Regions from separate parts of the Homo sapiens genome. Here all the other regions are linked to region 3. The links come from fine-mapping of genetic effects on plasma protein levels. A gene starts in region 3. Each other region holds a variant in brackets. All regions are shown on one strand. Distances are between the middles of the regions. Region 1 overlaps DPP10 (dipeptidyl peptidase like 10). Region 2 overlaps DPP10 (dipeptidyl peptidase like 10). Region 3 holds the start of DPP10 (dipeptidyl peptidase like 10).

What was found. PIP is the chance, under the fine-mapping model, that this variant and not a neighbour inherited with it causes the effect. The UK Biobank Pharma Proteomics Project read protein levels with antibody pairs (Olink). The fine-mapping took linkage between variants from a reference panel, not from the people measured, so its PIPs are less certain.
Region 1: its variant is fine-mapped to the plasma level of the DPP10 protein (UK Biobank, PIP above 0.99).
Region 2: its variant is fine-mapped to the plasma level of the DPP10 protein (UK Biobank, PIP above 0.99). The variant lies in the coding sequence of DPP10. If it changes the protein, the assay may bind it differently, which can mimic a change of level.

What each region holds. Positions count from the first base shown.
Region 1 is chr2:115,634,302-115,642,301 of GRCh38, reverse strand. All of the region lies in intron 5 of DPP10 (dipeptidyl peptidase like 10), which reads right to left. Among named protein-coding and RNA genes, the nearest start is that of DPP10-AS1, 480 kb to the right of the region's middle. The variant G/C (reference allele first, on the strand shown) is at 3,820.
Region 2 is chr2:115,837,510-115,845,744 of GRCh38, reverse strand. DPP10 (dipeptidyl peptidase like 10) reads right to left here. Exons shown (of 26, transcript NM_020868.6): 25 at 4,922-4,995; 26 at 1-3,534. The coding sequence ends at 3,400. Among named protein-coding and RNA genes, the nearest start is that of DPP10-AS1, 680 kb to the right of the region's middle. The variant G/T (reference allele first, on the strand shown) is at 4,924.
Region 3 is chr2:114,439,234-114,447,497 of GRCh38, reverse strand. DPP10 (dipeptidyl peptidase like 10) reads right to left here and starts at 4,857. Exons shown (of 26, transcript NM_020868.6): 1 at 4,660-4,857. The coding sequence starts at 4,719.

The sequences.
Region 1 (8,000 bases), 1.2 Mb before region 3:
AAAGCACTGTCACAGAGACATCCAGAGGAATGTTTGACCAAATATCTGGGCACTGTAGCTAGCAAAACTGACACACGGAATTAACCATCTCGGTGTTTTAAGTTAAATATTATATTGTATGTATGAGGCATTGTCTCATTTATATTTAAATTGCTACCTATTTTGAATATAGAAACCATATTTGGATGGTTAGAGTTACAGGAATGTGTAACATGCAAATAATATATTTATAATTCTCCTATCTAATTACTGAAAATCTTATGACTTGAAAAGCAATGCCCTATCTTTCTGTGGGTGTTGAAGAGGATTTTCTTTCCTTAATAATCGCTTTAAATTCTGCATGAGCTTTCTGCTTAAGGCAGAAGTTGGTTCCAAGTCCAACTACTATGTTCCATTTCATTATTTCAGGCTGTGTGGCTGAAAAGGTTGATACTTGGTAACACTATCGTATATGAAATGACATAAGAAAAGGTTTTGTTTTGAGGCACCAGTATTCCATAATTTCACTGAATCTGGCTGCCTACCAAATGTCAAATATAATTGAATTCCTTCCATTTATCCATTCATTTATTCCACATGCACATTGAACCCAGTATCTGACAGGCATTCTTCTAGGAACTGAGGATATAAGACAAAGACGTTACCCTTATTGAGCTTGCACTTCGGTATAATAGCAGAAAACTAATAATACACATAGAGACTCATAAGTAGATAACTTCAGACAGTGATAAGTACGGTAATAAAAAGACTAAACAGGATACTAGGATAGAGGGAGAGAGTGGGGTTCATTTATGTAGGCTGGTTTAAAGAGGTCTCTCTGAAGAGGTAGTATTGGAAATGAACGGGAAGAGCAGAGACAAAGATGGAAATGAGGTGGGCACATTTGGGGACTAGAAAGCAAGTCTGTGATGCTGAAATGCAGATAACCAAGGAAGACTGTGAGGAGATGACACTGGGAAAACAGGTGAGGACAAATCACGCGGGGCCTTGATGCCGTGGCAAAACTTGTCCTGATTCTCCTCTTATGGCAAGGAAATGACAGGATCTGAACAACTTTGAGTAGACGATGGACTCTTGTGGAAGCAGACAGAACACAGGCAGATCATTTAAGAGACTGTGGTAGTAAACTGGTAGAAATGATGGCTTGGGCTAGGAGAGAGGGTGAAGAGCAGCCGCTGGATTTGGGATATTAGAATCAGTACAATTGTTGCTGTTGCAGGAGTACTTTCCTGTATGTATATCATATAATACATATTATTCTATTTTCAAAGTAATTATTCTATTTTCAAAGCTATTTTCCAGTTCCTATCTTATTAGTCCTAGCAGGAATTCCACAAGATATGGAAAGAATGATAGTTATCTGGTGAACAGATAGCTAACAGAAAAAAACAAAATAAACACTGTGAAATTGAAACTTTGTACTTTATAAATTAATTGTTTGTAACATCGGTGTATAATGATCAGCTCCTGCAGAAACATCTTTCACATAGAAGAATTTCCAAATTCCCAAGGCAACCGGAACCATCCAGGCCAGCTCTAATTGCTAGAAAGGTATTCAATAATCTCGTAAAGCTTCCCAGCAGAACCTAAATTAGAATGCAAGGACTAGGGGTCACATTGCGCTGCCATAGTTCAGCTTATCTTTACAGCTGCGATCTGATTCCACACTTTCTCACTCACACTTATCTATTCCTTCATAAAACCATTAAATAACTTTGCCAATATGAGTTCACCATATTGCTCCCAAAAAAGTAGACAAAAAATATTAGGTTTTACTTATTAACTGTAAAATTAATTCCATATAAACGAGATCAAGATGTCGTTTTTTTTTTTCCTTTCTTCTTTTTTTTTCTTTTTCAGATAAGAAAGGGGAATACTTGGTATGATGAAGACACATAAAGATGGAAGAGGTCATAGTAGTTGTAAGTGCTGGGTCCACAGAGAGGGAGGAGGAGGGGGCAGAAAACAAAGCGAGTGTGAAGTTCTCATTTTTCTTGGGAGTGATTTTTTCAGGACCTGCCTTCCTCCATTACTAGTTCTTTTATTTGGGGGAATGTTGGCCTCCAGGACTTTTCTTAGAAATCCACACAGACTTAGTTTAATAGGAGACCAGTATTACTTTTCCTTCCCTGAGGGGTCTCACTGATGAATGTTTAGCAAGCAAGTCAGTAATTCTGCAAGCCTGAAGCCTTTTACTCCATTCAACACTCAAAGGGTACACTTTGGAGTCAAGTAGATCTAAATTAGAGTATAGGCCCAGTCACTTACTAGGTAGGTGACATGAATAATTTATTTGCCATCTCCAGCCTGAATTTTATCTTCTCTAAAAAAAAAAAAAAAATCTACTGTATGAGTCAGTTAAAAAAAAATCACTTATATATCTGGTCCTCTAATTCAGTCTCTGTTCTCAGTGCTGAAGCAGATCAGTAAGTACCTGACATGACGTTAGCATGAATCTGTCACTCTGCGAATCATATATTTCCCAACTAGACTGCACAGAAGAACCATCTGAGGATTGTATTTAAAATGCAGATTCCTGAATCAAAACCCTAGAGATTCCGGTTCCTAGGTCTGCAAGGAGGTTTCAGAAATCTACATGTTTTAACAAACACCTCAAAAGGTGATGAAATTTATCTCCTGCTCTTTATATTTGGATAACAAAGAAAAAAAAAAACCTGTAATGCATTTGAGTTTCATGTACCTGTGACCTCCTGTCATTTCAGAGGTAAATCTTGCTTCGCTTTGGTTCTTTGCATAAACCTTCTGACCCTCAGCCTCCCATATACTGGCACAACCTATAACACCAGGACAGATGTTTGTCTACTGCACCTGACTTCGTTTCCTGTTACTCCTGTTTGCCACTGTCTTCCTAGTTTGCAGACTGCTTTAGACTCTAATTTCTACTTCCTAATTGTCCTAGGTTATAAGGAAATTGCCAGCTTCTAACTAGATTATCTTGCTTATGTCAGGCAAATATGGAGTATTACATTTCCCAATACCCTTTCCTGATATTTCTACATTAGAATTGGCCAGAAGAGAGACGTTCAGTGAGATATGGAAGGAAGAAGAGAAACAGAAGCTACTACTTTCAGAAGGTTTTCATAAGATAGATGCCTAAGATACGTAGAGGGGTACCCAGCAAGACTCAGTGTATCCTTATTCTCCTCTTCTCTGAATCTAGTCCACCTTTTCAGTAGCTGGCCCTGCTGACTAATGGTGGCCCCAAACCTACCACTGGGCATTTGGCTGTGGACTCACAGTGGTAGTGGCCACCAAAGACAACATCTTCCTACAGACCTTGCTGAAGTGCCCCCTTCAGAGTCCTACTTTGGCAGTAGAGCATGCTTGGCTTCTTGTCTACCTGAGTCAGCGCTTCAGGAAAACCAGCCAGTGATTCTTTCTCTGATCATCCCAGTCCCCCTTAAACACTTTCTCTTCAGTTAGTGCTTCCGTGTTTGTGTAAGGTCTGATTCCTATAATAAACCCCTACCCAACAAGGCTTTAAGTAGTCCTGTTTTGTTGACCAAAATCCCATGGATACATACACTGAATCAACTCCACTCTTAGTCTGGACTCTACACATTTGTTGGTCCAGATAATAGCAAGGATTTCAAGGGAGGACTCAATCATACAATGGAGACAAAATCCATTTTATTTCTTGATGGCCTACCAGGATATTTCAGTGACTTACAGGGAAAATACACAGAATCCTCCAGGCATTTCTATTTTATTCCTAGAAATCAATATAGATATTTTAGTGAAAAAACTTTTACATGACATTTTGACCTAGAATTCAAGATGTGAGAGAGCACAAAAACA[G/C]CTGCTCTTTCCTGAAGGCTTCTGGCTTACAGGCACTTGGATTCGGCCTTAGAGATAATGCCAAGGTTGACTGAAATGTGTAGATGAAAGAGAGATTACCATTGCAAATTGTGTTAACCTTCTTACTGCATGGTTGGCCATCACCAAAATAGTTCAGCCTTCCAGACTGCAATCACATATAATACTAGAGAATTAAAATCACCCACTACCAACCCTTCAAGCACAGTTTTAGTAAATGCACACTTGGAATTCTAAGTAAATTTTGACTGAACAAGAAATGTGCAATCAACTGACGGATTTCAAAGTCCCATGATATTTTCTTCCCACAGAATCAGAAGGCAGTACCCATTAAAATTAGGCAGAACCACAGATGTATATGAAAGTGCATAATTCTAGAGATTTCACAAATCTTATTCAGAGGAAAAGTGATCTTTGCATTCCAAAGATTTTATTAATCCTCAGAGGCTACAGTCTAGAGTGAAGCCTAACATGCAATCAGATCTCTGGCTCTTCTTCTACAGGTTACCCTCTTAGTTTCATGATTCAGTGCTTTCACTCTGAACTTATATTTGAGTTATACCAGTAGAATGTGATACAGGTACAAGGGTGGTACTAGAGGTCACAGACTGGTGATGTCTAGGCTTAATTTTTCTTCACACAAGTTTAGTTTGACTGGGATGGCCACTGTTCTTGTCCATCAGTGAGAGCTGTGTGTAGGCTTCCCCCCAGGTCACAGGGGCCTCCCTCCTAGAGAAAATAGTGATTTAATCAAGTCTTATGCCTATGAAACATGTTCTATTTCGGGGCTCACTCATAAATTCAATAAGAGTTTTAGTATTATCATAAAATAACTTTTATTTATAATTGAGAGCTGCTAAGTTTCTTTGTGGTCTTGGAAATGCTCTCCTAACAATATATTTCATTGGTTTACCTATTCCTCAATCTTTATTCTGTCACTGTTGCCCAATCTTACTCTATCACCTGGATTGTATTTTTCATATTCTTGGAGTCTCAATTCTGTGCCTCCTATTTTCTTATTCTATTTTTCTCCTCTATTTTTAGAAATTTGTACTTTGCATCTATATTTTTTGTGATTATGCTAATTTAAAAACAATTAACTTACCCCTCTTCAAACTACTCAAAAGCCATAGTATACAGTTACTTTACTCCCCTTCCTATTGTGTATATAATTTTTTAATCAGTTTTTTGAAAGATATTTTTCCTCTTCACAAAATTTCAAATTACTTTGGCTTTATATAGTCATAATTTGCTTTGATTTAGTCACATTTTTGCCAATATAATTGCTCATAATTTCTTTTTGTATCATTACTTTCACATCTGGATTTTTTTTTCTGTTTACATTATACCTTTAACATTTATTTTACTGAGTATTTGTTTTTGGCTTATCCCAGATTATCTGTTCAAACATATATTTTACCCTCAGGAAAAGTGTATTGGCTAGGTACAGAATTTTAAGCTATTTCAGCTCACTGAAGTTACATTCCATTGTATTTAGGTTTCTAATGGCTGTTGCTGAGAGGCCTGTTTAAATTGCTTGTCTTCTGTAGACTGCCTTTCTTCTAAAATCTCTTAAGATTCCACTTCCTCTTAGATTCTGCAATTTTATTATGATAAGGGATGTGAGCAGAAGTCTGACTCCCTGTTTAAGTTATTTATCCACCATAATTGGTATGTTTTCACCTTCAGCTATGTGGTAATTTTTTTTTTTACTTTTAAAAACCTCAAACTTGAAGAAAAGTTGAAAGAACAGTACAATAAAGATCTGCATAATCCTCACTTAGAATCACTAATTCTCAACATCTTTCCATATATACTTCATTTCTCTCACTTTTTCTCCTTCTCTCCTTCTCTCACTCTCTCTCTTTTTCTGTCTCTCTCCTTTTCTCTCTCTCTGTCTCCTTCTCTCTTTTAACATAAACATACACACAACTGTTTTGTTGAATGATCCAAAGGAGATTGCACAATTATATTTAAGTATGGGCCTCCCAAGAATATATAACCACAACACCATTACCACACCTGAGAAAAATAAACAGTTTAATAAAATTATACAACATGCAACCTACGTTACATTTCATCAATAGTCACGTAAATGTTCTTTATATCTTTTCGGTCTGTCATGCAACTTCATGCATTGCATTTCACTGTTACGTTACTTTAGTCTTATCTAATTTAAAATAGTTGATGTTTTCCCCTATTATTCATTATTACATATTTTGATTTAATATTAAAGTATTAACTTTTTGAGAAGCCCAGGGTAGCTGTCTCGCAAAGCATACCATCATAGATTTGTCTGTTTTTTGTTTTTTTTTTTTTGCGATTAGACTGAGGTCAACATTTTTGGTAAGAATACCACAAAACTGGTGTAGTGAATCTCCCATTGCATGTCATCAGAAGAAACAAAAAGTTAGGCTTTACACCATCAGTAATGCCAAACTTAGCCACTTGGTTAAGATTGTCACTGTATGATCTTTCCATTTTAAAGGGACATGTTCCACCTTTCAAGTAATATGTGCAATGATGCTTTGAAAACATGAATATTCTATTCTTAAACACTTTTTGCCCAATGATTTTAGAATGTATTGATAATTCTTTCATTAATAAATTATAATATTAGGACAGAAACATCAAGAGTTTTCTAGTCTATCATTCCAGCCATATTTATTATATGATATAAAGCCTAAGAACTAATGTCTAAAATTATGTGCTGACTGGATATCTGGTGAAATCACAGGGCCTCCAATAACTTAACCACAAGCTTCCCTCCCCATTGGGCTTCTAGAGCTAAGATCCTCTCCAAATAACCTTTCTTATCAAATGGAACAGGTGCGGCTACTACTTAATCATTAACTGGTGAGTTTCAGTTGCCTGCAAACTTGAAGAATTATTTAAACAGACTGAACTGAGGTATCCAGGTCTTCTTAATGGGACTGAGTAGGTGGTTGGTGTGACCTACGGAGAGTAAGGAAAAGCAGAGTGGTGCCACAGCCCACCTAGGAGTCAGACAGGGCAAGGGGAGCTACCACCTTCAGCCGAGGGAGGCGGTGAGTGATGGTGCTACTCTGCCTGGGAAACCACACTTTTTCCACAGATCTGTGCAACCCATAGATCAGGAGATCCCCCTTGTCAGCCCACGCCACCAGAGCCTTGGGTCTGAACCGCAGAGTTGTGCAGATTCTCAGCGGCTACTCGGCTGGAGACTGCCTAAGACTACCGAGTTCCCAGAGGGAGGGGTGGCCATCATCACTGTGGCTGCATGCTGCCTAAGATGGCTGAGCTTTCAAGGGGAAGGGCGGCAGCCATCACTGTGGCTGCCTGCTGCATAAGATGACTGAGTTCCGGGAGGAGGGGTGGCCGCCATCACTGCAGCTCCAGTTTGCCATCTTTCCCCTGCAATGCCAGGGAAAATGGATGGTTTGGACCCTGGAGGAATTCCCCATAGTGCAGCACCGTGGCTGTGGCAGAGTGTGGCCAGATTGCCTCTTTAGGCTGGATCCTTACCCACACCATTTCCCTAGGCAAGCCCTCCCTACAAGAATTTCAGAAACTCCAGCCAGGGTTTTAGCAACAGAACTCTAATCTCTCTGGGACTGAGCCCCTAGAAGGAGGGGTGGCCGCAGTCTTCGCAAATCAGTAGACTTAGTCTTTGCCCCTGCTGGCTTTGAGGAATCTGGGCAGTCTAGACAAGTGGGATTCCTCCCAGCACAGTGCACCTCCTCCACCAAGGAGCAGCCAACATGCCTCAGTTAGTGAGTCCCACATCCGGTGCCTCCTGACTGGAGGAGAACCCTCAATTAGGGTTGCCAGACACATTATACAGTAGCATTTCTGTTGGCATCAGGTCAGTGCCCCTCTGGTACAGAGATCCCAGAGGAAAGAAAAGGCAGCCATCTTTACTGTTCTATAGCCTCCACTGGTGACACTTCCAGGTGTGGAAAGGAACCAGGTAAATAGAGTCTGGAGTGGACCCCAAGCAAACTGCAGCACGCCTATGAAAGAAGAGCCTGACTCTTAAAAGAAAAATAAACAAACAGAAAGCAACAATAACAATAACGTCAACAAAAAAGTCCCCACAAAAAAACCCATCCAAAGGTCAGCAGCTTCTGTGATCAAAGCTGGATAAACTCCTGAAGATGAGAAAGAATCAATGAAAAAATGTT
Region 2 (8,235 bases), 1.4 Mb before region 3:
AACCACTGATTTATTCTTATTTTATTTCTCCTCCTGTAATATTCACAGTGATAATTTCTTGTGGAGGGGAAAAATAGTTTCCAGAAAGCAGAGTCTAAGACAACAGCTAGCACACCTGCCGTTTATTTTGGAAAGTGATCATAGGGAATAGGAGTAGGGAGCTTAAAAGAGTGAAATGGGGAAGAGGAAAATAGAAGGGTATGCAGCTATGGGCTTCTGCGGCCCACAGAGTCTTCCATGGACCATGTAGAATATCTGAGGGAAAGATCAGTTACCTGCTACAGTCTTTCATTAATTGTGTTTTAGCGGGTTAGTAACACCTTCACATCGGTTTGCAGCATGTAAGCGATTTGTCTCTTGGTTCTACCAAGTAGCCAAAATTAGTATCAGAGAATCCCCAGAACAGAAAGTGAAAGTGAGCAGAGCTGAGAGGCCAGATTGTATCCATACAGTGTTGGTGGCCGCAGGATGTGAAGGTGGTCAGAGAACTTGAGGAGGGACACAAGTGGTATTTCATATATAACTCCTCATAGAAGCTATGTGCTGTCAGTGATTCTAGAGACTTGAAAGCAATTCAGTCCAAGGTACTTCTGTCTCCAAGCCCAACATTTGAAGGACAATGGCTTAAGTAATTCTCTAATATGGTAAAGCCCAATGTCTAAGTCACCTCATTGTAATAGATCTACAACAGACATCTGTAAGATCCCCAATAGTGATTTTTATGCTAAACACCCAATTAAAAAAAGGCACATTTTCAGAGTGAAGTGAGATCCATCTTTTGAAGAGTGATTCCTTCCTTTAGTTCTGTCAGGAAACTCAAAGAGATGAGAATAGCCTGCTTAGTCTCTGAGTATTTGGAGATCTTAATGAAGGCAATGAAAGTGAACAAACACTTTTCTCTTTCAAAAGAGTTTCAAGAGATTGTTTATCTCTGTGGATGATTTAATACTGCTTACCTATTTAATTAAAGAATTCAATATATTGATTTTTTTCTTTAACATTAAGGGAATAATAACACTTGGAAAGCATGCTATTGGAGTCCTAGGAAAATCTAGCAATGCATAAATATGTATGAAATAGTGGGATTATGACCAAGGGTACATGTATACAGGGGAAAATCCAATCACATGATTCCTTTAATAGTTGGTGACTATGTGTTGGTGAGCATTTCCTTTACTGAAAATGACCCTGTCATTAAAACTCAAAGAATCGCAGGGATTAACATTTTCTACCTTCCTACTAAGCAATATGCTTTCACTTGAGGTCTCTTTAGTGTTTAAGGGGAAAACGGGTTCCAGAAAAATGTCTTTCACATTAGAAACTGTATTAAATTAATTGAAAAATAGATAAACATTGATAATAATAATAAAACAAGAGAAATGATGACAGTAAAAGGCAAATACTTTTTAAATGATACTCAAATAGACATTCAATAAAACCACACCTTTCAGACAACATAATCATTTGCATCATAAAAAACTCTAGTGGTTCAAATTTAAAATATTGGTTAAAAAGCTTCAGTTGGATTTCAAATTAGCCTAAAAAGAAATTTCCATCTTAATAAAATAGGCAAAACTTTCCTTTTAAAATTACAACTTATTTTGTTAAAAAATGTGTTCACTATTCTTGAAAAAGACCTAAAATGGATCTTTCAGAAGAGAAAGCCTCTCCTATTTTAAATTGAACCCAGTGGAGCATGGAAGACACGATTCCAAAGCATCCAGGGAAAAAGTTGAATACCAAATCCATGATTCACATGTACTCAAATACCCAGAATTTGGGGTTGATCCTTCAACAAAACAGGAGGGTGACTGAGTGATTCCTTGATATTTTAAAGTTTCCTCCTGATGCCATAAGTTATGATAATTCAGTCTGTCCTAAGGACTTTTTTAAAACCACAAAAATGCAGTATCCTGCCTAGATTTATCTGAACTTCTAAGCTTATTACAGACTTTTAGATATCTTCTGGAAGATCCCTTAAGTGAAGTGAGAAGATATTCTGACTTTAGTCACCAAAGTTAAATGTTCTCATCACTTAAATTGACTTCATACAGTCAGGTTTATTTTATGCTCTCAGTTACTTACTACTGCAAGTCAACACAGCACAGGAATTGATGCATTTTGTGCCTTCAATTCAAAGTAAATAGCAAACACTGCTGTCTGTGAACTTTTTGGCCAATGAATAAAAAATATTTCATTTCTAATTCTCACCAGAAGAATTGAAATTAAACAGTAACAGATGAATTGGGCAGGCATGGAATACTAAATAGAAACTGGCAAATGAAATAATCCAGCTATTTGCTTTTACGATGAAAATGAGAATTGATTCTGCACTGAGAGAAAGAAGTAAAAGGACCAAGAGTTTTGAAAAAAGCCTTCTCCACCAAAAGAGCAAAATAGCACTCAGTGGCATTGCATTGTTAACAAAATTTCTTTATCAGAAACTATAATTTAATATTTAAGTATCTAATTTACATGTGACAAGGTATCATATTCAAAAAATTAAATGCAACTGGAAAACTATTAACCACTAAAAACAATACCAAACACAACCCAAACATTTATAGGAAAGCAATAGCTAGAATTTGAATTGGAAAAAATGTTTCATCATATTTGGCTCATTAAACAAAGCATCCATTATAGCTTGGAAAAGAGCATCTCTTCTAATTCATCAAACGTTTACTCTTTATAGCATGAATAACATTTAAAGATAGTTTCATTAACTGTATATGCACACTTGTGTATATATATTGTGAGACATACACTCGTGTGTTCATTTAAAGATATTGTATCTACTGATAACTGGCTGAACTTTGGAAGGTGCTGAAATCCACATTTCTATATGTCCTTTGACCCATTTAATAATGTCTTTTTAAAAACAGAAATTACATAAAATACTCTGTTTTTTATTAACTGAATATTTTCTTAAGCATAATAATAGACAATGAAAGAATTGCACTTATTATAAAGGTACAGTAAAGTGTTAGATTGCAGCTCAGCCATGAAAGATCAGGGACTGTAGGACAGATGATAGATTGTGCATTATATGCAAAGATGATGGTGGCCAGTGAAATTAAAATGAGAGCAACTAGTTACAGAACAAACAGGGGGATAACAGAAGAAAACATGCACTACTCCTACTTTAATGCAAAACTAATTTCTCCCAGGAAACCAACCCTTTGACCTCTCTCATACAAAGAAACGGGTTCTGCACCCCTAGCAACACAGTAGACTTGGACTTGTGTATTCAAATGCTAGTTCACTGTCTCTGAGCGTGCTGCTCCAGTGACATCTCCGTAAGCTGCCCTTGACATTCTGGAGCAACTACAATATTACAGTCTCTTTGTCAGGTTTCATTGAGCCTCAATATTCCCTTCAGTTCTGTATAAATACAGTCCATTATTCATCTTCTTCTGGTTCCTGTGGTAGCACAGATATTTCTTCCTTCAAACAATCACTGAAGAATTTGAGGATTGTGCTGTAGAGATGATACTTGCTCTTCTCAGATACGTTATGACCTTCATCTGGGTAGACCTAAGATATTGAGGAGAAAGAAGATTTCAAATTATCCAAGAAGCTATTGTCTCTCGCATTCATTTTCTGAGCCCTAACGTCATGGAAACTTTGAGTAATAATATCTGACCAAAATCAAACCTAATTCTACTCTAAGTTATTCATGCTAAACTTTTAAAACAATTGTAATCATGTCAATTAATATTTGGTATTTAAATTAGAATATGTTGGCCATAAAAGGTAGACTTTTTCATGTTTATGTTGACTGAGATGGACTAACCTTGCCCTCAGCTTGACTAAACTTTGGACAGTTTCTTTTTGACTAAAGGCCCTTGGCCTCTCCTCCCCTTTTTAGGAGTATTTAGTTTAGAAAACTTTCCAGCTCTTTATTTAAAGAGCATTGAGTTCAGTCTTTGTCTCCTTTGCAGTAGTTTTTCATAAGGTCTTCCTTGCCTCTTTAACATTGTCTGGTGCAATTATTTACTTTGACAATTCCCTTTCCAATGTAAACAAAATTGTTACTGTTTCTAAAATACAAATAAAAAATACAAATATTATCCCATTAATTCCTGAGTACAAAGGTTTAAATGGCGCCTCATTGCCCTTTGAATAAAACTCCATACTCCTCAACATTGCTTATGGAATGACCTGACATTTGTTTATCTGTATAGCTTCATATTTCATTATCCTAAACGTGGTAGTTTGTGTTTTAGACAGGTTGAGCAACTTTTGGTTCTTCTGAATGCTGAGAAATTTAAATGACTTTACTTTTTCCTTCTATGACTCTTATATCAGACTGGAACCTCCTTGACAGTGTAATGTATGTCTTGTTACTCATAGAGCAGAGTGACCACTGTAATGTCCTTGATAAATATATATTAAATGTATGAATGCACAGACATAAATGGTAGTGCAAATGGCCTTTTATCCTCTCTTCTTTTCTTGTAATATTTCCCCAAACATTTTTTATCCACTATTTATTATGAGAATTATAAATTATCATATTTAAAAATAAATTAATAATAAACTCTCATATTTAATAATAAAGACAAAGGAACAAGACAAAAGGAACAAGAAAAGGAAGAAAGGAACAACAAAAGGAAGAAAAGATAAAAGGAACAAGAAGGGAAGTAGAAACTTGTTACTTTTAAAAGAATTCAATATTTGGGATATGAATAAGTCTGAGAGGAAAATGACAATTTAGAAAGGATTCATGCAATTCACTTGTAAAGCATGAGTTCATCCACATTCTCGGTGTAATCAGGAACAGAGAACACAATCTTTGGTAACTAAAAAACATATTAAAAAATAATAGTAGGGAGAATGGAATAATAGAGAAGCTGTGTTGCGTATCTCACAAGTGAAAAAACACAGCAGGAAAACACGTTCTTCTAAGAAAGTAGCTTACCT[G/T]CATAGTATAATTCACTCCAGCTTTTATTAGGTGCTTGATTAATTCTGCTGAGTGTTGGAAATGAACTTTTGCTGCAAGAAATCAAATTATGATATCTGAAGAAACACACTGCTTGTATGAGAACTTTTTCATATTATTTTTCAAAGAGATTCAGTGTTTTATTTTACATACATTGCACATTTAAAAGACTTATATCTGGCTGGGCACGGTGGCTCACGCCTGTAATCTCAGCACTTTGGGAGGCCGAGGTGGGCCGATCACAAGGTCAGGAGATCGAGACCATCCTGGCTAACTCGGTGAAATCCCATCTCCATTAAAAAATATAAAAAATTAGCCGGTGTGGTGGCGGGCACCTGTAGTCCCAGCTACTCGAGAGGCTGAGGCAGGAGAATGGCGTGAACCCGGGAGTGGGGAGCTTGCAGTGAGCAGAGATCGTGCCACTACAGTCCAGCCTGGGCGACAGAGCAAGACTCCGTCTCAAAAAAAAAAAAAAAAAAAAAACCAAAAAACCTTATATCTGGCTTTAGGTAGAAAGCTGGTAAATACAAATACAATGGTAAAACTTTGAGCTTCACTCTATTAAACAAAAAAGCAAAACAGTAGCTACAACTAAGTCCTACTTACTCTACAGAATGGTGTTTATATTTACTTTACTGGATAGTATTTATTATTCCTAATGGTACACATATTTTTATAAATTTTATAAAATTTATAAAAAATTTTAATATGGCAAATGTCTTTTCTGGATATTAATACAGGAAACCAGCTATCTATTTCATTTTGAAGATTACTAGGGCACAGTCTCAGTTGGATACTGGCATTCTGCTTTATTATTCAAAATTAGAAAAGAATACCCCATACTGAGAAAATAGAATACACATCTCATTATACAAGGACTAACTATTTAATATAGAGCATACTGGTTACTCTTGCTTTATCTTCCTTCTGCCAGAACCTAAGATCCAAGATTCTGAAGTAAGCAGCCCAATAGCCATGGGTTTGGTAGCTATGAAGATTTGGTGCAGTCACTCAAATCTCTTTCTGCAGAAGTTGGCTCACATTCTGTCTAGGGTGTTCATTCCTGTAGTTTGTGTATCTTCAGATTTCTGTAACTCATGTTTAAGCTGCCTTTTTTTTTTTTTTTTTTGAGATGGAGTCTTGCTCTGTTGCCCAGGCTGGAGTGCAGTGGTACGATCTCGGCTCACTGCAACCTCTGCCTCCCAGGTTCAAACAGTTCTCCTGCCTCAGCCTCCTGAGTAGCTGGGATTATAGGCGTGCACCACCATGCCCAGCTAATTTTTGTATTTCTAGTAGAGACGGGGTTTCACCATGTTGGTCAGGCTGGTCTCAAACTCCTGACCTCGTGAGCTGCCTGCCTCGGTCTCCCAAAGTGCTGGGACTACAGGTGTGAGCCACCGCGCCCAGCCTAAGCTAACATTTTTAATTGTCGTTGCAAAATTAGGGCAGCCTTATCAATAGTTTAAGCCTCTTTAATGCTCTAACTCTAGAATGCTGAATAATCAGACCACACAGCAGAGAATGTAAAATGGCAAACAATCATTTAAACCTATTAAAAAACTAGATAGTCAAGATCTTTTTCAACATCTTCCTATGGCACTTAATGGGAAAATGACCTTGTCATTGCTACATAAGTACAAACTGCTCTATAAATGTAAGCTTCTAGAAATGCTAATTAATAAGGTCAATGACAGAGGTAATGTGATCCCTTATTTGTCTGCATGGAGACAGCTGAAAATAAATGTGCAAAAGGATTTTTCCAATTGGATTTTTTTTCTGCTTAGTTTCTAATGCAAAGTCCATTGATATTTGTTGCTATTTGTCTGTTTACTATAGCTAAAAGGGAACATTACAGGTTTGACTGGGTGATTGAATTCATTTGCTGGTAATTTTTGAAGATAATATTAATAGTAGTGGTGTTACAGTGTCATGACTGAGCACCTATAATTCACCAGGCCCGTATGGGTTGTGTGGTATGTGTATGTGTGTGCCTGTGTGTGTGTGCCTATGTGTGTGTGTGCTCACACACATTCACAGGTGCATTTCCTCTCCAGGGACCAGGGCTGAACCTCTGCTTGTATTTTATTAGATGGGTGAAGCGCCAGGCCTGTGACTGAGTGAGTCAGATAGAACAATGATTTACCTTTATAGCTACAACATATTGACAGAGAAATTTGAAATAGCACTAATATATTAGTCCAGCATGATGGGTAGACATACAATAATTTAACCTTGAATATAATTTATTCATATGAATAAGGCTTCAGGGCACAGTGAATAAAAGGCTCAATACATGGATTCAAATCTCCTTCCTACTAATCAATTGTGTCTACTCTTTTAAGGAAGTTATATCATTTCCTAATATTTATTTTCCCAATCTGTTAAATGAAAGTAATAACATCTACTATTCCGTGTTTGCAAGAAGTACAAATAAGATAATATTAAATGCTTTTAGCACATTTTCTGACATACAATGAGTACATAATTGCTATTTATTTTTATTACTGTTGATATATATGTAAGGTCTTAATACCTTAGAACAACATCCAAATGTCCCTCAAAATTTTTACGCTCTCTTTCATCATGTTTCACCCAACACTGGTACTGTATCATCTACCTCTTTCTTTAATAGACTATTAATACTATAATTGCTTTACATTTTCAGAACAGTTGCAGAGATAGTACAGAGTTCCTGGATACCCGTCCTCCAGTTTCCCCATTGTTAACATCTTATATTATTATATACTTTGTCACAAATAGAAACTAAGACTCATATACTACCACTAACTAAACCCACTTTATTTGGGGTGCACTAGTTTTTCTTGTTGGTGTTCTTATTGTTGTTTTCCTGTGTACCCTTTCTGTTCCAGGGTTCCATTCAGAATCCCACATTATATTTAGACATCATGTCTTTTAAACTTCCTCTGGTCTATGAGAGTTTCTTAGACTTTTTTTTTTTTTGATTACCCCAACAGTTCTGAGGGGTGCTGGCTGGATATCTGATAGAATTTTCCTCATTTGGATCTGCCTGATGGTTTTCTCATGGTTAGACTGGTGTTATGTATGGGCTTGGAGTACTAAACCATGGAGGTAAAGTGCCATCCCCACTACATCATATCAAGGGCATTTAATAACAGTAATAACATGACTTGTCACTGTTGATGTGATGTTTGTCAAATTTCTCCACTGTAAAGTTCCTCTTTCTCTCTTTTTCCATATAGTACCCTTGAAGCAAATCATTCAGTGGAACCCACCCTAAAGAGGAAGAAGTTAAGTTCAAGATTTAGGAAATA
Region 3 (8,264 bases):
TTGCATATTGCAATGACACACAGAGGTAGATTTTTTGTTATTAAACATTCCTTGCATTTCTAAATTTTTGTGGATATAATTTATATATTTAATTATGAAATACCCTTTAAGAATAACTTACAATTCAAGTTCAAGTACTATGTGAAACGCAGGTTTGTCAGTGTCCAGCATTTAGGTTAGGGGTATAGAATTAACAACAAGTGGGCCGGGCGCGGTGGCTCATGCCTGTAATCCCAGCACTTTGGGAGGCTGAGAGGGGTGGATAATGAGGTCAAGAGATCGAGACCATGCTGGCCAATGTGGTGAAACCCCGTCTCTACTAAAAATACAAAAATTAGCCAGGCGTGGTGGCAGGTGCCTGTAGTCCCAGCTACTCGGGAGGCTGAGGCAGGAGAATCACTTGAAACTGGGAGGCGGAGGTTGCAGTGAGCTGAGACTCCGTCTCAAAAAAAAAAAAAAAAAATTTAACAACCAGTGAGATTGCAATGCTGTAGTTCCAAGCCATCTCATCATGCCAATTCATGGCAATGTCACACTCCAAAATACCAATTTGCTAACGAAATTATTTCCTAACCACCATGTTCCAAGCCTACGTATTTAACAATACATACTTGTGATAAGATTTTCATCCTCTTTTAACCCCTTGTCTTCTGTTTCCTATGCCTCATTTGGCTGAGGCTATGGATTAGAAGTAGCAAGGGGGAAAAGTCTTTATTAGCACAATGACTCATCAATATTACAATATAAAAGGCAGTAAAAATCACCATGAAAAAGTTTGCCAGCTCAAGATGTACTCCGAAGACAATGAAAATCTTAAAGATTCGTTTAAGTATAGTTTGTAAAAACTTGCAGCAGGGCTATGTAGGAAGTAACTAGAACTTTTAGACCTTGAGACTCTTTTCTAAATGGAAGTGAAAACCTGGGTGTGAAGGCAGTATTAAAATAAATCAGGCAGGTCTTGTAAAAAGGAAAGAGAAAGAGGAAGACCGGTCACTACATGGGAAGGGTAAAGAAATATTGTGTACTGTATTTCAGAGTTACCATATAAAGTATAATACATATAATTCTTGATCCAGGAATCACCACCCCAGATAAGTTACTCACAATTTATAACTTCAAAAAGGATGAAGGATTTTCTCTACTCATTTTAGACACACGAGGATACTAGACTGATATTCAAATGTGAAAGAAATAAGAAAAAAATCTGCACATTTTAGAGGCAAAATTCTAAGTTTGCAATTCCACTAGCAAAAGAAGTAAACCAAGATCAGAGATTTAGCTGAAAGGTTTAATTTACTTTCAGTGCAGCCAAGAGAAGCCATAATGGTGAAGGAAAAACTCAAGTTTGCTACCCATGGTGGGGGACATTCTTCAGAAATCACGTTTATAATAACGCAAAGATCTGATCTCTATTTAGCATTCCCAGATACTTCCTAAAACTTTCCATTAAACATCTCAGAGTAAAAGATTTTTTTTAAAAGAATGTTGCTACCTTCACAGGAAGATTTGTAATCACATCAGGAAAAGCTTTCTTCCCTTACAAGCTCTGAAATGGAGGAAAGTTTTCAGAGTGAATTGCATTCAGCATTTCACCCAAAGTGATCTGAGAACACACTTGGCACCCCTATTTGACTCCCTTTTCTCTCCCTTACTGGTTTTGACGATAGGAACATACCTGCCAAAGTATGCCAGGAAAAGTGTGTCAGTAACTGTCTGAGCTAAAGAATGGCCAGAACGACCAAAGCAAGTGTCAAGCAACCTGAATACTCTTGATCATCTTGTTCCATTATAACTTCTCCCAATTTCCTCTTTTCCAACTCTGACACATCATGGCCACAAACAGCCTTCACTGGCAACAATTGCTGAATTTTACCCACTATAGACTTCATCACTTCTTGAACTTCAAGTGGAGGAGAACACACACACACACACACACACACACACACACACACACACACACACAGAGCTGTTTTTCCTCCTCCTGCACACTTTTGGCCTTTACAGCTATTTTAGCAATGCATTTCACTTTTGTTCATTCCCATTGCATTCTTTTTAGCCGTAGTTTAACTGTTGAGAGAAGAAACAGTCAGCATTTACTATACTGATGGGGGAAAAGTTCTCTAGAGGTTATTACACTGAGCTTTGGGAGAAAAGTCTCTAGAGGTTTTTGAATTTCTAAAATGGAGCAATATGCAAGTTATTTATTTCCAGATCCTCAAAGTGGGTTATCATTACCTGCAGGCCAACCAGATTCCATGAGGGAGGGTTACTTAAAATTATCTGATAGTAAATTGATAGTAAATTTAAGAGTGAGGAATAAAATTAACTTTAAACAACCATGCTTGAAACTAAAATTCTAATAGTTCAAAGAGTATTTTGAGCTCCAATGTCCCACAGCTTCCCAAAACCCTCTCATCTTAGAGTTTTTCTTTAGATTGTTATTGCATTTTGTTCATAGGCTAATGCATTACCTAAATATAGATAGCCATTTTTAGTATAAATTCAAAAAGCCATAAATGTTTCATAATTGAGCACATAATTTGAACTAAGAGAGATTTTCCACTCATCCCTTTTCACTATTGCAAATTGCAAAATACTCAAGTAATTACTCCCTTAATAGTTCAGTGCTTGCGACTATATATATTTTATGAACATCACAAGCATTTTTTTGCTCCCCAGAGCAATATTGGGAATGGGGTGCACAAAAGAATTTAACTTGTACAATTAACCAAATTACCCAGAGCTTTGATTCAAGATTCCTTCATTAAGCCATTAATATAATACATTGTTAAGTGGTGGGTTGTCCAATTTTTATGATACTTTTCATTTCAACTCAATGGCTGCAGTTAGAAGGAAAAAACAGCATCTGCAAGATCAGCAAGATGATGTAAAACCTCTACACTAGAAACATTTTTTTTTCTGTTCCACAGTTTGTTTGTGGGCAGCCAATGCCAGAGCACTAATAAAGGAAGTGATTTGAAGTCTCTGAAAGTAGTAGTCATTTATGCTTACTCAATAAAGAAAAGGGAAAATAAATGCTTGATTCCTGTGACCTCAGACTCTTAAACAGAAAGCCACTGGTTTTGTTATAGCATTCTAGACATACTTAGCAGTAGGCAGCCAGTTTGTAACTCTATCCCACTTTAGGCTTCAATACATATTTCCCACTAGAGCTTATATATCCCAATGTAGAGTGTCATGTATTTACTATTTTGGCTTTGTTCAGTGATATGCTTAGATAATTGATGTATGTGGGAAACTGATACACAGAGGAAAACTATACCAAAAGCTCAACATTTTTTATTTCTAAACTTAGATACAGCACAGAAAATCTAATGCTGAAAAAGATTCTCATATCTGTTATTAGAGGTGGTGTAAATTATCTGAATATGAGTTCTGCATGATTTCAGTTAACTCCCTATGTTTATGTATGATGGGAATCTAATTATGCATCATTTAATATACCCTGGAAACCCCATTGCTTTTAAAAGTCACTGCTAATAAATAGAGGAACATGTTTAGTTTATGGTTTATCTATCACTGAAACACTCTGGCAAACGGTAGGTAAATTCATGAAGAAGAGACATTGTTGAAAATTATATTCCTTTTGTAATTACAGTCTATGCAATATTATTAAAGGCCTGAGACATAAACCAAAACATAATATAAATCATAAAAAGTCAGGCTTATCAGGAATAGTAGCAAAAGGTATGCACTTGTATGTTAATGAGAGATTGCAGTAACTAAAGATGCCCTGTCAGGATATCACGTTTTTTGTTTTAGTTTTTTTTTTTTTTTCATAAAAGAGTTTCAGACGAATCCATCACTTTCCCTCAAGATGCAAAATATCCACATAGATAATAATACAATTCAAGTAAATGGCAAAATATAGTAAACTTTGATTGGAAGTCTGGTCGTTTATAAGCCTTCTTGGAAATAAGAGCATCCCGAATAAAAACAAAGAGAATGGTATAAGCATGACTTGAAACTAAAACAGAAGAGTGAAATTGTGAGTTTGTTCTTTACCTTTAACCATGTGCTGTCAGAAAAGCCTCAAATTTTAAACAACACCTGCATTGAAGAGTGTCTCCAATCATCTCACTGGTTTTGAGTTACATGGTGATATAAATAAAGACATGTGATTTTATACTCTCTCTCTAGTCTTTCATCCTCTCTCACTATAATCACTTTAGTATAACCACCAGTTCAATGCTCACAATGAAGGATGAGCTTTTTTTAAAAAAGGATAAGAGATCCAAAATTCATATGACAATGAAATCCTGTTATCAGATTTGTAGTCAATTTGATGCTATTTATTTCTAGCAGTTTGCAAATTCTTCCCCAGTTCTATCAAGAAAATTGGCATGGACTGGAAACTCTTCTAGACACTCACAAAACTTTCTTCTGGAAATATACCTCTGATAGATTCTCAGTAAAAAAAAAAAAAGTCATGAAGATGAAAGAAGTGTTCAGTGGAAACTATTCTTTCCAGTCTACACACACATGCAGAGCCAAATGCTTTATTGTGACTCAACCTTCAATTCAAACTCAAATCAAGTAGGTATGTCCACTGTCAGTACCCCGATATATCAATGCCCATGTGTTAGGTAGATGAATGAAGACACATGTGCAGAAGCAGAGGGAAAAACCAGATCCTACCTTGATTGTTTTTGAGGGTTGACACTTGATGTGATGGGACACGCTGGCAGTTTGGTTCATGTTTCAGGACCCTGGACAGTGCACAATCCCAGGCGGAGTTCCAGAATGAACTAGAGATCAAGTCTCCTCTATTGGACTTCAGTAGGGGCTGCTGCTGTTGCTGCTGCCGCTGCTACTGCTGTTGCTTCTGCTGCTTCTGTTTCTGCTGCTTCCTCACTCCGGAGGCTGAAACGCTATCAGATTGGAGGAATCTGTATCTCACTTAGCCCTAAATAGAGCATTTACTTGGTTCATCAGTCTCAAAGCTCTTGGCAATATGCAATAGAAAGCCAAAAACGGTTTAAATTCACTTGCAGTGTACCTTTTCAGTATGGAGATGTGACAGCTCCACAGTACAGCCAATGATCCTGGCTCTCATTCCCCTTTCAAAGGGACGAAAACCAGAAAACATACAGAGATCAATTGCAGTCCTGCAGTTTAAAGGGGCACTCTCAACTCCTCTGTCTCTCCAGATTATAGTTTTTCCAGTGCAAAATATTTCTCTCTCTCTCTCTCCCTCTCCCCACCCCTAACCCAGTTTAAAAAAAAATCATAACATCCTCATTCTGTTACTAAATTTTATTCCTTCCTGGGTACTTCTTGCAATCAAAACACAAGTAAATGCTGTGGAAAAAAAAAAAAAAAGACTGTTGGCAGTTTCAGAATTTGGGGGTTTTATATCTATAGGTTGAAGGACTGATATTCCCTATGGATATTTTTAAAATTTAGCCATAACAGCCAGCCAAGAGACTGTCCTTTCTGTAAGGTGGCAGAAAGCTTAAGGTATATTTAAAAAGTTTTCAAATACAATAGTTATTGTAGTTTTTGGATATCGCACCAAAGCTAGACAATGTTTTTATTTTCAACCTTTATTTTTGACCATTGCTTTCCTTGAAGCCGTATTTTTTGAATGCCTGGGACAAACTGGTAGTTAGCTCATGCCAGTCTAACTCCCCAAATGGTCACCTCTCTGTCCCTAATGTCATTTTAGGCAAAATAAATTATAAATATTTGTAAATTAAGTTTTCCGAGTCACCAGTCCCCATTGTCACATCAACACTAACTAGAATAAATATATCCTGGTTGGAAATAAGATCCAGTAGTCTTGAGTAAATGCAGGACACTCTTTTCCAACTTTTGTTGCAAAGTGTTTGATGTTGAAAACCAACAGTATTTATTCATCAGAAATGTATCCTACTAATGAAATGCTAGGTTTATAAGATTGAACTAACGAACTACATTCAGGAGGCTTTTATGAACAGCCTAAAATATTACAGATAAACTTTAATGTGAAATGAAATAAATTAATGTTTGGTGAAATTAATTTATACATAATTATAAACACATATTTTCTCTTGTAAAACAGAAAAGGGATCTAAACATTCTGACAAAGTAGTCTGCACATGTTTGAGGATGGCTAAGTTTCAGAAGGTTATAGTTCTGAGTAGCAAAGTGGAGGTAAGGATGTGACAGAAGTAAGATCAGACTGTTTGCAGCCACAAAAGTTAATGGCAAGAGTATTGGAGAAATCAGGAGAATCATGGGAAAAGAGATGGAGCCAATAAGAACCAGGCAAAAGGCTGTGTGCAAGAATCTGGTGTAGCAATATCCAGGCATCATATTGAGCACAACCAGAGGCAGCCATAGGGCCAACAAATCTCATGATTTGAAGTTTACAATTCTAAATCACAAATGTGACTGGAATTTGTGGCTTATCTTGTATTTTGCTTGAATAGCATTGCTTTGAATAATTCATAAATCACAAAAAGAGTATATTAAAAATGTTTAAACATTTTGTATTCAACAATAATGAAAACAACACAGAAAATTTGCAGTATGCAGCTAAATCAATATTTAAAGGAAAATGTATATAATTAAGTACCTATACCAGAAATGCAGAAAAGCATAAAATTAATAATTAATAAGCTAATTATTCATATCAAAGAGTTGGAAAAAGAATGGCAAAATAAACTCAAATAAATTATAGGGGGGAAACAATAAAGAGAAGAGAAGAAAGTAATGAAGTAAAAAACATACAAAATACTCAATGAAAAAACCTATGAACATTTCATCAGGTGGTTTACAGTTTGATAATCTCTGAATAAATGAATGTTCTATACCAGTAGAATTGGCTTAATTCCTTTCTTAGATAGCACTTTGTACTAGGTATCTAAGAAACTTCCAAACTAAATTATCTGGGGAGCCCAGGGAGGGAGAGCAGTCCAAGAGTTCAGAGTATCCCATCCCCATCAAAGAACTGTACAGGATGGAAGGAGCCACTAGTACTTCAAGGAACCCTCTCCAGGCACATTGATAGAGACAGCATTTATATGCCTACCACAAAGAGGGTATGAGTTGCTGGATTTCTACAACTATAATCACATGAGACTTCACCCCTTTTCTACAATTTTTCAAAAAGGTTCTACCCCCACCTGGATGGCAGCAGGATCCAAGAAAGATATTGACACTACCATTTATAGGTAGGTGGCCAGAATCCACCTAAAATCTTTTCCCAAAGTTGCATTTTGAAAATAGAGAAAAATCACAGTAAGAGAAAAGAGTGCCTCGTATACACCATATGCTCCCTTTCCAGGCTCCACATTATATCAAACTCCAAGTTCCAAAGAAAAATCAAGTGTTCAGAGCAAAACATATGACCCAAATCTCATTTTGGATTTTGTTTTCCCTTTCTGTTATATTATCATTTCATGAATCAAGGAAATGAAAACCATAGTAATTTTTAAACATTTCTATTTAAAACATGTATAAATTGTTCATTATTTTGTAAAATCTGCTGTATCTTAATGTAGCCAATTGGAATGTACAACTAGAAGAAAATAGAGACCAAAGAAATTTAGACAAGTGCTAGAGAATTACAAATACCGCTTAATAAGGATAATTCATATACATTTCTTCTAATTGGGATATATTGGGCTCAATATGTTTAGAATGAAAACAGCTGCAAAATTGCATCACGGTTTGTCACATGGAAGTAGTTTTTTTTAAGGTTTAGATCTGCTGAAGAAACACTATACAGTAAATCATACTGAACTAGAAAATTTAGACAATTTAGTCCAAAGGACCAATTTCAAATGTAATCAACACTTATGATAACCGTATAAAAATATGTTGTTGTCAAACAGTTTGGGAAAAGTTAGGAGTGAGTCCCTTCCACCTTTCCCACAAAAAAAATTAAGATGGCTAACGCTTTCAGAAAATATAACCCACGATGTTCCTTGACCAGCTATCATTTGATCCGGGAAATAGAAATTTAGGATGGGGTTAATGAAAATATCCCATTAGAAAAAAAAAAAAGTCAAAGTGTCAGATGGATTCTACTACCAATTTCCGTCTCTTTGTTTCAAGTCCCATCTGCCCAAGCCCTAACTAGCTGGTCACAGTGATGACCTACAGATTGCAAAGTTAGGCAAGCCCAGGCCTCTAGTCAATAAGAATGGTATCTGAAAGGATATTGGGCTGTTTCCCTGATTTTTTTGAAATCTACTGTAGAAAATTCAAATCCCTCCATGACCATTGAGGGATCATCTCCTCATCTTAACACCTAT